Linked DNA regions of Homo sapiens: region 2 is linked to region 1. The links come from fine-mapping of genetic effects on gene expression. A gene starts in region 1. The other region holds a variant in brackets. All regions are shown on one strand. Distances are between the middles of the regions. Region 1 holds the start of SIRT1 (sirtuin 1). Region 2 has its middle 13 kb from the start of DNAJC12.

Region 1 (8,000 bases):
ATTTTTATATTGTCAAATATTTTTATCATTTAAAAAATGGCTCCTGCCTTGCTAAAAAGTTCTTTCTTGATCCAAAGTTATAAATATTCTAAAATGTCATATTTTTATTTTTGTATTTTTTCATTTAGATCTTCAATCCATCTGGAATTTTTAATTTTTTATATTTTTGAGATGAAGTTTTGCTCTTGTTGCCCTGGCTGGAGTGCAATGGTGCAATCTCGGCTCACTGCAATCTCCGCCTCCCAGGTTCAAGCAATTCTCCTCCCTCAGCCTCCCAAGTAGTTGGGATTACAGGAATGTGCCACCACACCTGGCTAATTTATTTTTTAGTAGAGTCAGTAGTAGTTTGTCCATGTTGGCCAGGCTGGTCTTGAACTCCCGACTTCAGGTGATCTGCCCCCCCTCAGCCTCCCAAAGTGCTGGGATTACAGGAGTGAGCCACCGCGCCTGGCTGGAATTTATTTTCGTATATTGTGTGAAGTAGGGATTTCCATTTGTGTTTTTCAGTTTTGACAATAACATTTTATTAGTACAAAAGAGTTGATACTAACTCCCTTACTAATTGTAGTCACATGAGACTGATATCAGAGCTATTAGGCCAATTTATTTTTTTATTTATTCATTTTTTATTTATTCTTATTTTTATTTTTTTTGCGATGGAGTCTCACTCTGTCGCCCAGGCCAGAGTGCAGTGGCGCGATCCCGGCTCACTGCAAGCTCCGCCTCCTGGGTTCACGCCATTCTCCTGCCTCAACCTCCCGAGTAGCTGGGACTACAGGCGCCCGCCACCACACCCGGCTAATTTTTTGTATTTTTAGTAGACACGGGGTTTCACCGTGTTAGCCAGGATGGTCTTGATCTCCTGACCTCGTGATCCACCCGCCTCGACCTCCCAAAGTGCTGGGATTACAGGCGTCAGCCACCGTGCTTGGCAGGCCAATTTATTAACTTAGGAGAATAGAACTACTAAGTCAGCCAGAATATTAATGTTCTTTTTTTTTTTTTTTTTTTTTTGAGACAGAGTTTCACTCTTGTTGCCCAGGCTGGAGTGCAATGGCACTGTCTCAGGTCACTGCAACCTCCACCTCCTGAGTTCAAGCGATTCTCCCGTCTCAGCCTCCCGAGTAGCTGGGATTACAGGCGCATGCCACCACTCTGGGCTAATTTTTGTATTTTTAGTGGAGACGGGGTTACATCATACTGGTCAGGCTGGTCTCGAACTCCTGACATCAGGTGATCCGCCCGCCTTGGCCTCCCAAAGTGCTGGGATTTATAGGCGTGAGCCACAGCGCCTAGCCTTAATGTTAGTTCTTAACCAGTGGTAGACCAGAAGTCTAATTGGGATTTTTTGTTTTTGTGTTTGTTGTAATACAATTTCTGTTTCTCATTTATCCTACCTGAAAAGCATACTGCATCTCTGACCTCTCAGCATACTAACAATAATATTGATCACATAGCATTTCTTGTAGTTCATAAACTTCACGTGTCAATAATATACTATAAATATAAATGAATTAATGAACAACAGGATGCTCATAAGCTTACAGACATCTTTTTCTCAAAAAAGCTGGGAATTTTGTTTCTGTTTTATTGGGATACTGACTCTCAACATTTCATATATTGCATTCCACCAACGTAGCTGAGAGTCAATTTATGAAATATTTTGTAGTGTAAGACAGAAAGTGGGGAGGACCAAGTATGTCAACCACTAGGAGTGTGGTGCCTAGTCAGGAATTGGGAGGAGTGTAGCAAGAAAGGAAGGACAACAGGATTTGGTCATTGATTGGTCAGATGGATTTCAGAGGGATTGGTATGAAGGAACGCTTCAAAGATTTTTTTTTTAATTTAAGTTCCAGGATACAGGTGCAGAATGTGTAGGTTTGTTACATACTTATAGGTGAGCCATGGTGGTTTGCTGCACCAATCAACCCCTCATCTAGGTTTTATTTATATTTTTTTTTGAGACGGAGTTTCGCTCTTGCTGCCCAGGCTGGTGTGCAATGGTGCGATCTCGGCTCACCGCAACCTCTGCCTGCTGGGTTCAAGCGATTCTCCTGCCTCAGCCTTCTGAGTAGCTGGGATTACAGGCATGTGCCACCACGCCCGGCTAATTTTGTATTTTTAGTAGAGACGGGGTTTCTCCATGTTGGTCAGGCTGGTCTCGAACTTCCGACTTCAGGTGATCTGTCCGCCTCGGCCTCCCAAAGTGCTGGGATTACAGGCAGCAGCCACCGCGCCCAGCCAGGTTTTAAGTCCCGCATGCATTAGCTATTTGTCCTAATGCTCTCCCTCCCCTTGACCCCCACGCAACCAAAGATGGTTTTAAGGCTTCTAGGACTGGAGATGATTACTTTCAGAAATGAATAGTGGTGACCAGATGAAATAAGACTTTTGGATGTAGATAGGACCTTAGCGATATATTTCCAGCTTTTTATTTTTTATTTTAAGGATGAAGAAACAGCTTTAAGTTGGTTGCCTAAAGTCACGCAGGTAATTGATGCAGTATGGCCAGAACCCATACTAGGCTTAAGGGACAGTGTACCATAAACTCGTAGAGGTCCTTTAAACAGATAGAAACGCTGTGCTCCAGGCAGATGCCATAACAAACACTGGCTCTAGATCTACCATGGGTTATATGGGTCCTTAGTTAAGATTAGATATGGAGTCACAGTGTGCCAGAATTTCAGGGAGAGAGGAAAGTGGAAGGGCTTTCCACTAAGCCTTTTGAACTACTAGGTACCCCTCGTTTTACATCTGGTTATCTCATTTAAATCTATGACGTTTTAAAATACTTATTACCATTTAAGACATGAGAAAAATTAAGTTTAGAAACGGCTAGATAGCTCACGCTAGAAAGGAAGGACTCCAAATTTTAACCAAGGGCAGATGTGCATGGAGGCCAAGTCATTTCCTTCCCATGCTCTCATACTGACCCAACAAACCCATTCTGCACGTGAGAAAACTGAGGCCCGGAGGAGGGAATTCACACACGTTTGAAGCCAAGCTGGGGCCAGAAAGTAGATCGGCTGATCTCCAAACCTCCACGTCAAAGGTCTTCCCAGGAGGACATATGCCTTCAAGGATTTTACAATGTATACCACCCTACAAGTGATGGGAGAGAGGGGAAAAAAGCAACCGACTAAGGAGAAAAGCAAGGAGCAGAAAAAGGAGCAAAAGAGGAGCTGTCAGAACGGTGTGAGGAGAGTGGGAAAGGAGCCGCCTCCTTTTGCCTCTCTTCCTACTTATTAACAAAACAGAACGACTATCCAACGTATTTCAGGGAGCTAAGTCTTAGCCAGCTTCAGCTGTGTTTTAACCCTTAGCTAAATATAGACAAGGCTAAGGCAGGCCAGGTGTACACTTCAGGAAGACGTGGAAATTCCCAGGGCGGACCAAAACTTGAGCTGTTCCGGCGGTAGTGATTTGAGGTCAGTTTGAAAGAGAAGTTGAGAAAGCGGCCGAGGGGCGAATTTGGCTGCACTACACGCTCGCCACAAAGAGGAAGGGCCGCCGGCCGCCGGGGCCGAGTGCGCTTCCAGCCCAGGCGGAGCGGTAGACGCAACAGCCTCCGCCCGCCACGTGACCCGTAGTGTTGTGGTCTGGCCCGCGTGGGTGGCGGGAGCGCCGAGAGGGCGGGGGCGGCGATGGGGCGGGTCACGTGATGGGGTTTAAATCTCCCGCAGCCGGAGCCGCGGGGGCGCCAGTGCCGCGCGTCGAGCGGGAGCAGAGGAGGCGAGGGAGGAGGGCCAGAGAGGCAGTTGGAAGATGGCGGACGAGGCGGCCCTCGCCCTTCAGCCCGGCGGCTCCCCCTCGGCGGCGGGGGCCGACAGGGAGGCCGCGTCGTCCCCCGCCGGGGAGCCGCTCCGCAAGAGGCCGCGGAGAGATGGTCCCGGCCTCGAGCGGAGCCCGGGCGAGCCCGGTGGGGCGGCCCCAGAGCGTGAGGTGCCGGCGGCGGCCAGGGGCTGCCCGGGTGCGGCGGCGGCGGCGCTGTGGCGGGAGGCGGAGGCAGAGGCGGCGGCGGCAGGCGGGGAGCAAGAGGCCCAGGCGACTGCGGCGGCTGGGGAAGGAGACAATGGGCCGGGCCTGCAGGGCCCATCTCGGGAGCCACCGCTGGCCGACAACTTGTACGACGAAGACGACGACGACGAGGGCGAGGAGGAGGAAGAGGCGGCGGCGGCGGCGATTGGGTACCGAGGTGCGCAGGGTGCGGGCGGCCGGAACTGCGCATCTCCTCCTCCCTCTCCCCGGGCTCCTACTGGCCTGAGGTTGAGGGCGGCTGGGGGCTCGGGGCAGGCTCCGCGGCGTTCCCCTCCCCACCCCGGCCCTCCGTTCAGCCGCGCTCCTCCGGGGCTGCGGTTCCTACTGCGCGAGCTGCCAGTGGATTCGCTCTTTTCCTCCGTCCGTGGCCCGCCTGGGCGGCCTTGTTCTTTCCGCAGCAGCCAGGTCGGGAGACTCTCGCAGTCGCTTTAAAATAAGTTTCTCTCCCCCTCTTACTCTTTTAGCATATTGCTTTTGTTAGAGCTTTTTTTTTCTTTTTCTTTATTTTTTATTTTCATTGCTTTTCTCCTCTACCCCCCAGCACACTTAAGTCTGCAACTTTTTGGCTGTCCCGTTGGTCTGCGTTTTCAATTGCTTTTTGCAAACTTGACACCTGTGCAGTTTGCTTTTTTTGGTCTATATTTTTATGACTGAAATTACAATTTTTGAAAGAGGAAAGCTGTTTCTATAGTCACAGCTTGCAAAATTTAAAGAACGTGGCTGTTCCTGAAGACATTACCATTCTGTAATGCAGTTAGGAGTGGGTATGGGAGAGAGAGTACTTTTAGAGCTGTTCATATTACTTTTATTCTAATCTTGCTCTTGTGCGGTAATGGTGTTTGGGCTAAACATGCTTTTTTTGTATGTATGTAGTATTGAGACACAAACTTAACACTTCTAGCATAATGAAGCAGATATGTTGCAGTTGTCATGTTCTTGAAGGTTTCTTTTTTTTTTTTTTTTTTTTTTTGAGACGGAGTCTCGCTCTGTCGCTAGGCTGGAGTGCAGTGGCGCGATCTCGGCTCAGTGCAACCTCCGCCTCCCGCGTTCAACCGATTCTCCTTCAGCCTGCCGAGTAGCTGGGACTACAGACACCCGCCACCACGCCCAGCTAATTTTTGTGTTTTTAGCAGAGACGGGGTTTCACCATGTTGGCCAGGATGGTCTTGATTTCTTGACTTCGTGATCCGTCCGCCTCGGCCGCCCAAAGTGCTGGGATTACAGGCGTGAGCCACCGCGCCCGGTCAGGTTTCTTATTTTTGATCTGAGGAGTTTCTATCCTTGATAGGTGTTCATCTTTATCAATATTTGGGTCAGGCCGGGCGCGGTGGCTCTTTCGTGTAATCCTAGCACTTTGGGAGGCCAAAGCGGGAGGATCTCTTGAGCCTAGGAGTTTCAGGCCAGCCTGGGCAACATAGCGAGACCTCCTCTCTACTAAAAGTAAAAAAAGCGGGACGTGGTGTCGCACACCTTTAGTCCCAGGTACTAGAGTTCGAGGTTGCAGTGAGCTGTGATCCTGCCACTGCACTCCAGGGTGGGCAACAGAGTGAGACCCCGTCTCAAAAAAAAAAAAAAAAAAAAGTAATATGTGTTTTTAGGGACTGATTTAGTAAAGAGACCCTGATTTCAAGCAACACAGTTGAGTACTAATTTATTATTTACCTAATAATAATTGTGTTATTAATACTGTTTATTTAATAGAGGAAACAATGCAGAGGTACTTGTAGTATTGTGTAAGTTTAACGTGCGCATTGCCAAGGTTATATTTGAATGACGTTTTTATGTAAATGTCCATTTATTACACGTTTCACGAACGCTATTGTTTGTGATTGTATGATACATTCTAGCTAGATTATTATCTTTTCTTTTTTTTTTTCCTTTTCTTTTTTTTTAAAAGGTGGAGTTTCGCTCTTGTTACCCAAGCTGGAGTGCAATGGCGTGATCTCGGCTCACCGCAACCTCCGCTTCCCGGGTTCAAGCCATTCTCGTGCCTCAGCCTCCTGAGTAGTTGGGATTACAGGCATGCGCCACCATGCCCGGCTAATTTTTGTATTATTAGTAGAGACGAGATTTCTCCATGTTGGTCAGGCTGGTCTCGAATTCTCAACCTCAGGTGATCCGCCTGCCTCGGCCTCCCAAAGCTCTGGAATTAGAGGCGTGAGCCACCGCTCCCGGCTATCTTTTCTGTTTTTTAAGTAGACTTAATTTATTTTTAGATTTTGGCTGAAACTGAGTGAGCAGAATTCCTAAAGATGAAGAAACTGTTCCAATGAACAGTGCAAGCTGACCCCATAGGCATGCTTTACACACGCCGTGTAAATGTTAAATGCTGTACTCGATGAAAATGATTGCTCTATAACCGTTCATACATTTTAGGTGCATGTTGTTTTGATAGCCTTGACTGACTTGGTTTCTTTTGCAGATAACCTTCTGTTCGGTGATGAAATTATCACTAATGGTTTTCATTCCTGTGAAAGTGATGAGGAGGATAGAGCCTCACATGCAAGCTCTAGTGACTGGACTCCAAGGCCACGGATAGGTATGGCTCAGAGCTGTTAATTTTAGAGAGTAAATGTACGGTTTTTGGTTTGTTTGTTTTGAGACAGAGTTTCGCTCTTGTTGCGGAGGCTGGAGTGCAATGGCGCGATCTCGGCTCACCGTACCCTCCGCCTTCCAGGTTCAAGCGATTCTCCTGCCTCAGCCTCCCCAGCAGCTGGGATTACATGCATATGCCACTACGCCCGGCTAATTTTGAATTTTTAGTAGAGACGGGGTTTCTCCATGTTGGTCAGGCTGGTCTTGAACTCCCGACCTCAGGTGATCCGTCCGCCTGGGCCTCCCAAAGTGCTGGGATTACAGGCATGTGCCACCTTGCCCCACCTCACTTGTCCCCTTTTTGTGTAGTGTTCTTCATCCGGTTAGAATATCTTCCTCCCTCACTTCATATTCCTTGTTTTTTCACTTTATTGTACACTTACCACTTCTTGAAAAGCTCTGTATCTTACTTTTTAAATTGTGTTGTTTCCTGGTCTAGAATATAAGTTCTACGGGAGCAGGAATTTTTGACTGACTTGTATACTCCTGTCTTTTCAGTGCCTAAAAAAGTGCCTGGCACATAGTTTGTGCTCAATAAATATTTAATAAATATGTGAATGAAATGGGAAAGTATTTCGATGTAGAAAGCATTATCAGTTTTTTATACCAAAGGTATAACCATCTTGAAAGTGGATCTTTTTGTGTTCTCACTCTTACAAATGGCTTGATTATTTAAACATAGTGAAGATCAGTTTCTCTTTGGTGTCTGTAATTTATTTATTTATTTATTTTTGTTTTCTCAAGCCTAGGGAGCTGGTTTGAGCAATCTCAGGGTAAAAGAAAATGATTAGTTCTCAGAACATCAACATTGTATGTATTATCTTGGAAGATGGGTTAAGATCAAATTGAAAAATTACCGGAAAAAAATTAAGATGGCAGTTATGTATAGATTTTCATTTCTTTTTCCTGTGTGGTTTTAATGATAAGTAGTACAGGCTTTTAGGACTGGTACGATTTTTCTATGTCGTAGAACCCTTTTGTAAATACTTTTGGTATTATGGTGTGTGTTTCTAGATATTAACCATAAGAACTTAATTCTGGTTGTTAATTAATTAGACTCTTGAAATATATACTTACAGCTGAAGGGGGTCTTCCCAACTCTTCATTAGATCTTCCTAATCTCATTGGGATATAGCATTAATTCTGAGTGTACCGAGAATGAAATACCATTAAATTGCATTTTCTTACTTTGCAAAAAACCCTCACAGAATGCTAACTCATTACTTCAGAAAATAAATGAGATTTTGAATTACTTGATAAGTTGACTTTAAGCCTTTTCCCCCTTATTGTAGGTCCATATACTTTTGTTCAGCAACATCTTATGATTGGCACAGATCCTCGAACAATTCTTAAAGATTTATTGCCGG
Region 2 (8,000 bases), 34 kb before region 1:
AGAAAAAAATTTCATAATTCTCATAACAGACAAAAGGCTAACTTCCTTAATATACAAGTGCAGACAAATCAATTTTAAAAAGCTTAACAACACAACAGAAAATTAAGCCAAAAATGCCGGGCTTGGTGGCTCACGCCTGTAATCCCAGCACTTTTAGGAGGCCGAGGCAGGCGGATCACCAGGTCAGGAGATGGAGACCATCTTGGCTAACACGGTGAAACCCCGTCTCTACTAAAAATACAAAAAAAAACAAAATTAGCCGGGGGTGGTGGCAGGCGCCTGTAGTACCAGCTACTCGGGAGGCTGAGGCAGGAGAATGGTGTGAACCTGGGAGGCGGAGCTTGCAGTGAGCGGAGATCACGCCACTGCACTCCAGCCTGGGCGACAGAGCGAGACTCCGTCTAGAAAAAAAAAAAAAAAAAAAGAAAGAAAGAAAGAAAATTAAGCCAAAAATACAACTACTTTCAGAAATACAAACGACCAATAAACATACAAATAGTAGTGCAACATCACTAATAATTATGAAACTGCAAATCAATCCAAAGAGGATAAAGTTGTTCACCTCTCAGATTAGCAAAGGTTTGATAATACCCATGCCAGAAAACAGAAATGACGAAGAAAGCATTTCCATACATTGTTGGATGAGAGTGTAATTTGGTACAATTTGGCAATTTGGTGTATTTATCACCTTTTATAAAGCATATCTATACTTGACAGGGCAATTTTGTCTCTACAAATTCAGCTTGTGGATATACACCAAAATATGTTCAAGAGGACCACTGCAGCGTCGTTTGCAACAGGAAAAAATATATATACAACAAAATGTTCATCGGTGGAGTTGAGGAGGGCAGGAGATGAATAAATTATGCTATTTGTAGGATGAACTATTGTATTGCCAGTGAAAAGAGAATAAAGATAGCTTTTTATGTGCAAGTATGGAAAGATGTCTAACGAGTGCTATCAAATGAAAAAACAGGTTTGAGAAGAGTATTACAGTATTATCTCTATTGTGTACTTTTTAATAGTATGTACATTTGCACTTGTAATTTTTTCTAAAGATAACTGCCTTTAAAAAGCAAGCAACAGGCTGGGAGCGGTGGCTCACGCCTATAATCCCAGCACTTTGGAAGGCCGAGGTGGGCAGATCATGAGGTCAGGAGTTCAAGACCAGCCTGGCCAACAGGGTGAAATCCCCGTCTCTACTTAAAAAAAAAAAAAAAAAAAGCAAAAATTAGCGTGGCATGGTGGTGCGTTCCTGTAATCCCAGCTACTCGGGAGACTGAGGCAGGTGAATTTTTTTAACCGGGACCCAGGAGGTGGAGGTGCAGTGAGCCAAGATCGTACCACTGAACTCCAGCCTGGATTACAGACCGAGACTCCGTCTCAAAAAAAAAAAAAAGCAAGCAGCAGGCCGGGCGAAGTGGCTCATGCCTATAATCCCAGAACTCTGGGAGGCTGAGGCGGGTGGATCACCTGATTGAGGTCAGGAGTTCGAGACTAGCCTGGCCAACATGGTGAAACTCCGTCTCTACTACTACTACTAATAATAATTAGCTGGGAGTGGTGGCGCACACCTGTAATCTCAGCTTCTAGGGAGGCTGAGGCAGGAGAATTGCTTGAACCCGGGAGGCGGAGGTTGCAGTGAGCCGAGATTGCGCCATTGCATTCCAGCTTGGGCAACAAGAGCCAAAGTTCATCTCAAAAAAAAAAAAAAAAAGCAAGCAACAGTATTCTTTTAGGGGAGGAACTGGGCAGGTACTCAAAAGAAGATTTTCATTTCCTTTTATACTTTTTTAAACTGTGTGAAGTCGATGTAGTCATCCCATAATTTTTCTTCTGTATGGAAGAATATAGCGTATAGTAGAAATTATGTAGAACTTTTTAACAGAGTTAAAGCTCTGTGGAGGCCGGGCGCGGTGGCTCACGCCTGTAATCCCAGCACTTTGGAAGGCCAAGGCGGGTGGATCACTTGAGGTCAAGAGTTCCAGACCAGCCTGGCCAGAATGGTGAAACCCCATCTCTACTAAAAATACAGAAATTAGCCGGGTGTGGTGGCGGGCGCCTATAGTCCCGGCTACTCGGGTGCCTGAGGCAGGAGAATTGCTTGACCAGGCAGGCGGAGGTTGCAGTGAGCCGAGATCGCGCCACTGCACTCCAGCCTGGGCAACAGAGTGACACTCCGTCAGAAAAAAGAAAGGGGAGGGCAGGGGAGGGCAGGGGAGGGCAGGGAAGGGGAGGGGAGGGGAGGGGAGGGCAGGGAAGGGGAGGGGAGGGGAGAAGAGAAGAGAAGAGAAGAGAAGAGAACCACACACACAAGACAAGAGAAGAGAAGAGAACCACACACACAAGACACGGAGAGTCCGATGCTCAATCCTAGGCCTTGGAGGCCTGTTCCTCCCTGCCGGGAAGCGTCTCTCACCCGAGACTACAACTCCCATAAGGCATCGCGAGCATCGCGAGAACGGCGCCACAGAGGAACCGGAAACAAGCCAGTTACTTTCATACTCAGGGACACCGTCCCCCCCTCCGCCCCCCGCCCTCCGTAAGTGCTATTTTTACATCGAATGCCCTAGTCTGGAAGTAGGTAAACTGAAACTAAGCTCAAATCAAAAGGAGAAAGGCTGGAAAACAAGAGGCTACAAGCTCCAGAAGCTCCGAGCGAGGATGAAAATTAGCCAGCCCACAGGTGGGCTCTGCGCGGCCCTGAAAGTCGCACTCTGACCTGACCCTTTCCGCCTCTCGTTTTTCCTTCCAGCCTCGCTTCAAAGTTCTGTATTGCAGAATGAAATCGGCGCCTTTCCCCAGCGGTTTTTCCAAATACGAGCAAAGGAGGCACAAAACGCAGGTTCCAGAAACTGTGCCTGCAACCATTCGTCCTTATTTCCCGACACACGGGCCCCTGCTCCCCGCTAAGGCTGGGGTCCTGGACACGAGTTTTGCGCTCTGATAGAAGGGCTTAGATTCCAGATTGACACTGGGCTCTCTAAAGCCTGCTCCTCAATCTACTGATCCGGTCCAGCTTAAGATCCAGTAGAAAGAAAACATAGCCTGCCCGGACCGTAACCTTTTTGTTTCAGACCCTGCATTTGTAAAATAGCCTAATAAAATCTCTCCCTGGCTTACAGAGCAAGACAGCGTCCTGGTCCAAGAACCGGATGAGTCAAAAGGCGTTACTGTTGAGTCAGACATAGAATACATGAATACCTAGAAATTCGTAAATGATTCTCCAAAGGCTGTTGAAATAGCGTTTTCAGGCCGGGCGCGGTGGCTCACACCTGTAATCCCAGCACTTTGGGAGGCCGAGGCGGGCGGATCACCTGAGGTCAGGAGATGGAGACCATCCTGGCTAACACGGTGAAACCTCGTCTCTACTGAAAATACAAAAAATTAGCCGGGCGTGGTGGCGGGGGCCTGTAGTCCCAGCTACTCGGGAGGCTGAGGCAGGAAAATCGCTTGAACCCGGGAGGCGGAGCTTGCAGTGAGCCGGGATCGCACCACTGCCCTCCAGCCTGGGCGACAGAGCAAGACTCTGTCTCAAAAAATGAAAAAAGAAATAGCGTTTTCAAGTTATAATCAGGTGCGATGATGAATGCTATTAATGCCATTTTTAAGAATAGTAAGTGCAGGATGTTGATAGG[T/C]TATTCTGGGAGGAAGGGAGATGGGGTATGTGAACTCTGTACTTTCCCCTCAATTTTGCTGTGAAACTAAACTGCTCTAAAAGTAGTTTGTTTGTTTGTTTGTTTTTAAGTAACAATAAGAAGTATAATAGGCCGGGCACGATGGCTCACGCCTGTAATTCCAGCACTTTGGGAGGCCAAGGCATGTGGATCATTTGAGGTCAGGAGTTTCAAGACCAGCCTCACCAACATAGTGAAACCCCGTCTCCACTAAAAATACAAAGATTAGCTGGGCGTGATGGTGGGCACCTGTAATTCCAGCTACTCCGGAGACTGAGGCAGGAGAATCACTTGAACCGGAGAGGCGGAGGTTGCAGTGAGCCAAGCTCGCACCACTGCACTCCAGCCTGGGCAACAAGAGCGAAACTCTCTCAAAAAAAAAAAAATAGACGTATAATAACCACTCATCAGATAAAATTACAACAAATTTAAAGATCTTAATTGGCTTTTATTTGCAATAAATCAGATAACACCTCATTCTGTAAAATAAATTGAGTGTTCTGGGATCTGGGCAGGAGGCTGGCTTTATAAGCCAAAAAGGGGCTGAAGAAAGCAGAAAGAGATAACAAAAAGCAGATTGGTCGTTTCAAAGTTACTTTCCTTGTAAAATTAAAGCACAGCCGACTTTCTTATTATGCCAGCTGAAACTGGCCTGTGTGGGTTTCTCTCCTGATTTCTTGGAAGGTGGAATAAGCAACTTAGTTTTGTTTTGGTGACATGGTAGTTTGGCATGAGTAACTTCATTTTGGTTTTGTCTATTGGGCCTAGTGCAGGAGCTCAGTTCAAACCAATGGCCTATAAATTTTATTTAACACCATTAGTGAGCTCTTATTATGTGCTAGTGACAAAGCTGGGACTTGAACTCTGCTGTGTCTGACTCCAAAGTCCCTGGTGAAGAAAATGTTTAAAATGTTACATCAAATTATCTGGCCAGAATTGTGGCATATTAGAAAATGCTTGTAATCCCAACACTTTGGGAGGCAGGAGGATCGCATGAAGCCAGGAGTTCAAGACCAAACTGGGCAACAAAGTGCGATGTTATCTCTACTAAAAATAAAATACAATAAATTAGCCAGACATGATGGCATGTACCTGTAGTCCTAACTACTCAGGAGGATGACACAAGAGGGTCTCTTGGACCCTAGAGTTCGAGGCTGCAGTGAGCTATGATTCCACCACCAATGCACACCAGTCTGGGGGACAGAGGAAGACCCTGTCTCAAAAAAAGGAAGAAGGGGGGTGGGGAGGAAAGGAAGGAAGGAAAGGGAAATAAAGGAAAGAAAGAAATGCACTAGACGAGGTGTCAGAAGACCTGATTTAGAGTATCAGTTCTGCACTGGCTCCTTGCAGAACCATGCTTCCTTGATTTGTTAAGATTGGACAAAAACAATGATTCTCAAACTTAAAGGTCCACACAAATCACCTGGAGGTCTGGTTAAGATGCAACTTCTGCTTCAGGATGCCTGGGTGAGGTCTGAGACTCTTCTTTTCTAGCAGGCACCCAGGTGAGCTCCATGTTGATCCAAGGACCACACTTGGATTAAAAAAGGACAGGATGACCTCCAGATCCTGTTACACTCTAACACAATGAATCAGTCTTTCCCTTTAACCTTAGCTCCGTTACTATCAAGGAAATATTAAGGAAACTGTCAAAAAAGAGAGTGATTAAAGAAAATTCCTATCTGGGGCTGGGCACGGTGGCTCACGCCTGTAATCCCAGCACTTTGGGAGGCCAAGGCGGGCGGATCACGAGGTCAGGAGATCGAGACCATCCTGGCTAACATGGTGAAACCCCATCTCTACTAAACATACAAAAAATTAGCTGGGCGTGGTGGTGGGCACCTGTAGTCCCAGCTACTCGGGAGGCTGAGGCAGGAGAATGGCGTGAACCCAGGAGGCGGAGCTTGCAGTGAGCCAAGATCACACCACTGCACTCCAGCCTGGGTGACAGAGCGAGACTCCGTCTCAAAACAAAAAAAAAAAAAGAAAAAAAAGAAAATTCCTATCTGAAGCCAAAAAATAAAAAAGAACTATTTAACTTACGATAATAATGTCTCTGGAAGGATTCACAAGCAACCCATAAAGTAGTTGCCTTCAGGGGGAGGGACTAGATGGCCCTAGTACAGGCGTGAGCCATGGCGCCCGGCCCCCGTCTTATCTCTTTAATTGCAATCTAAGTTCCTTATGGGAAGAACCACTAAAATAGATTCCTTTTACACCTCCTGCAGCACTAGGCATATACCATGTTCTCAAGGAACTTTTGCTGAGCCATCAATCTCCTCATGAATATTATTCTATATTTATTTCACTTCCTTTTGGCAGACATTCATTTGGCAAGCTTGGGCTATCACAGAATCGTATGGCATTTGTGACTCTATCACTGAATCAAATGGATTCTCTGAATTTACCACAGAGGACAAGGCCTAGGGCATAGAAAGTATGTATTACAAGTTCTTGTTTTTATTCCATTAATATTTCCTATAGATTAACATCCTTGGTCTACGTGACACCTTGCTGCACATTAGAATCATTGAGGGGAGCCAAAAAAAAAACAAAAACAAAAACAAAAAAACCATGCTGACTGGGTACAGTGGCCCACGTCTGTAATCCCAGCATTTTGGGAGGCAGAGATGGGAGGATCTCTTGAGCCCAGGGGTTTGAGACCCAGCCTGAGCAACATAATGAGACCCTGTCTCTACAAAAAAATTTCTTAAAAAAATTAGCCTGGTGGCATGCATCTGTAGGCCCAGCTACTCAGGAGCAATGGGAGGATTGCTTGAGCCTAGGAGGTGAAGGCTGCAGTGAGCTGTGATTGCACCACTGCACTCCAGCCTGGGTGACACTGTGAGACTCTGTCTCAACAAAACAAAACAAAACAACCTATACCCATGCCCTGAGACTCCCTTTTAATTGGTCTGCAGGAGAGCACTGTCACTCTGGCATTGTCACGTATCTATTTAACTTCAGCAAGAGTTATGTAGCTTTGAAACGATTCCAAACATATGTGAGTGGCATATGTTTTTGCTGTGATAAGAACATGGAGTGTCCTCCTTCCAGTGAGGATGTTATAGCACACCCTATCAGACCACAGATGTAAGTTATTGGCCTCAACTTCTGGAAGTAGTTTTCTATGATCATTAAAATGTTTTTTTGAAAAATACATTCACATAGTAAAAACTCAAAATATAGAAAAGAATCCAATGTGGCCGGGCACGGTGGCTTACGCCTGCAATCCCAGCACTTTGGGAGGCCGAGGCGGGTGGATCACGAGGTCAGGAGATCGAGACCATCCTGCCTAACACAGTGAAACCCCATCTCTACTAAAAATACAAAAAATTAGCCGGGCGTGGTGGCGGGCGCCTGTAGTCCCAGCTACTCGGGAGGCTGAGGCAGGAGAATGGCGTGAACCCACGAGGCAGACCAACAGAGCGAGACTCCATCTCAAAAAAAAAAATTAGCCAGGCATAGTTGCACACATATGTAGTCCCAGCTACTCAAGAGGCTGAGGTGGGAGGATCACTTGAGCCCAAGAAGTCGAGGCTGCAGTGAGCCATGATCTCACCACTGCACTCCAGCCTGGGTAGCAGAATGAAACCCTGACTCAAAAAAAAAAAAATATATATATATATATATATATATACACACACACACACACACACACACATATATAATACATATATATACACACACACATACATAAAATATATATACACACATATATACATATATACACATATATACATATATACACATATACACATATATATACATATATACACATATATATACATATATACATATATACACATATATACATATACACACACACACACACACACACACACACACACACACACACACATATATATATATAAAGTTCTCTGGACTCACGTTCTGGCCCCTATAGACATTTGGGTTTATGAGGACCCATGATTTACACTTATTAAAATATATATTCAGTATCCAAATAGAAACAGCACATTCAAATACAGCTTGCTGCTTAAATGCATGTGGTCTACAGTCAGACAGGGATTCAGGGCCATTAGGTGGGATCCCACAGCTAGTAAGTGGTAGCTGAGCAAGCAGGGAGGAAAGGGTGGCTTTTTCCTTTCTTCTTGATCAGCTACCACTTACCAGCTGTGGGATCCCACTGAATGGTCCTGTGCCTCAGATTGCCCCTCTTCATCTGTACAGGGGGGATGAAAATAGCACATCCCTCACAGGGTTCGTTTGAGGATTGAACAAGATAGCATGAATTACTATGGTATCTGGTACCCAATAACTGCTTCATAAATATCAGCTATTATTATCCTCATCAGGGAG

The links. PIP is the estimated chance that this variant, and not a neighbour inherited with it, causes the effect.
Region 2: its variant is fine-mapped to the expression of SIRT1 in whole blood (INTERVAL, PIP above 0.99).

The regions. Positions count from the first base shown.
Region 1 is chr10:67,880,957-67,888,956 of GRCh38, forward strand. SIRT1 (sirtuin 1) reads left to right here and starts at 3,700. Exons shown (of 9, transcript NM_012238.5): 1 at 3,700-4,195; 2 at 6,461-6,577; 3 at 7,926-8,000. The coding sequence starts at 3,766. RefSeq lists promoters at 1,380-3,765, 2,736-3,767, 3,555-3,766, 3,593-3,768, enhancers at 3,216-3,275, 3,296-3,455 and silencers at 3,536-4,075, 3,576-3,760, 4,195-4,489, 4,286-4,405.
Region 2 is chr10:67,847,024-67,855,023 of GRCh38, forward strand. No RefSeq gene overlaps it. Among named protein-coding and RNA genes, the nearest start is that of DNAJC12, 13 kb to the left of the region's middle. RefSeq lists enhancers at 2,374-2,423, 2,454-2,513 and a silencer at 6,508-6,802. The variant T/C (reference allele first, on the strand shown) is at 3,639.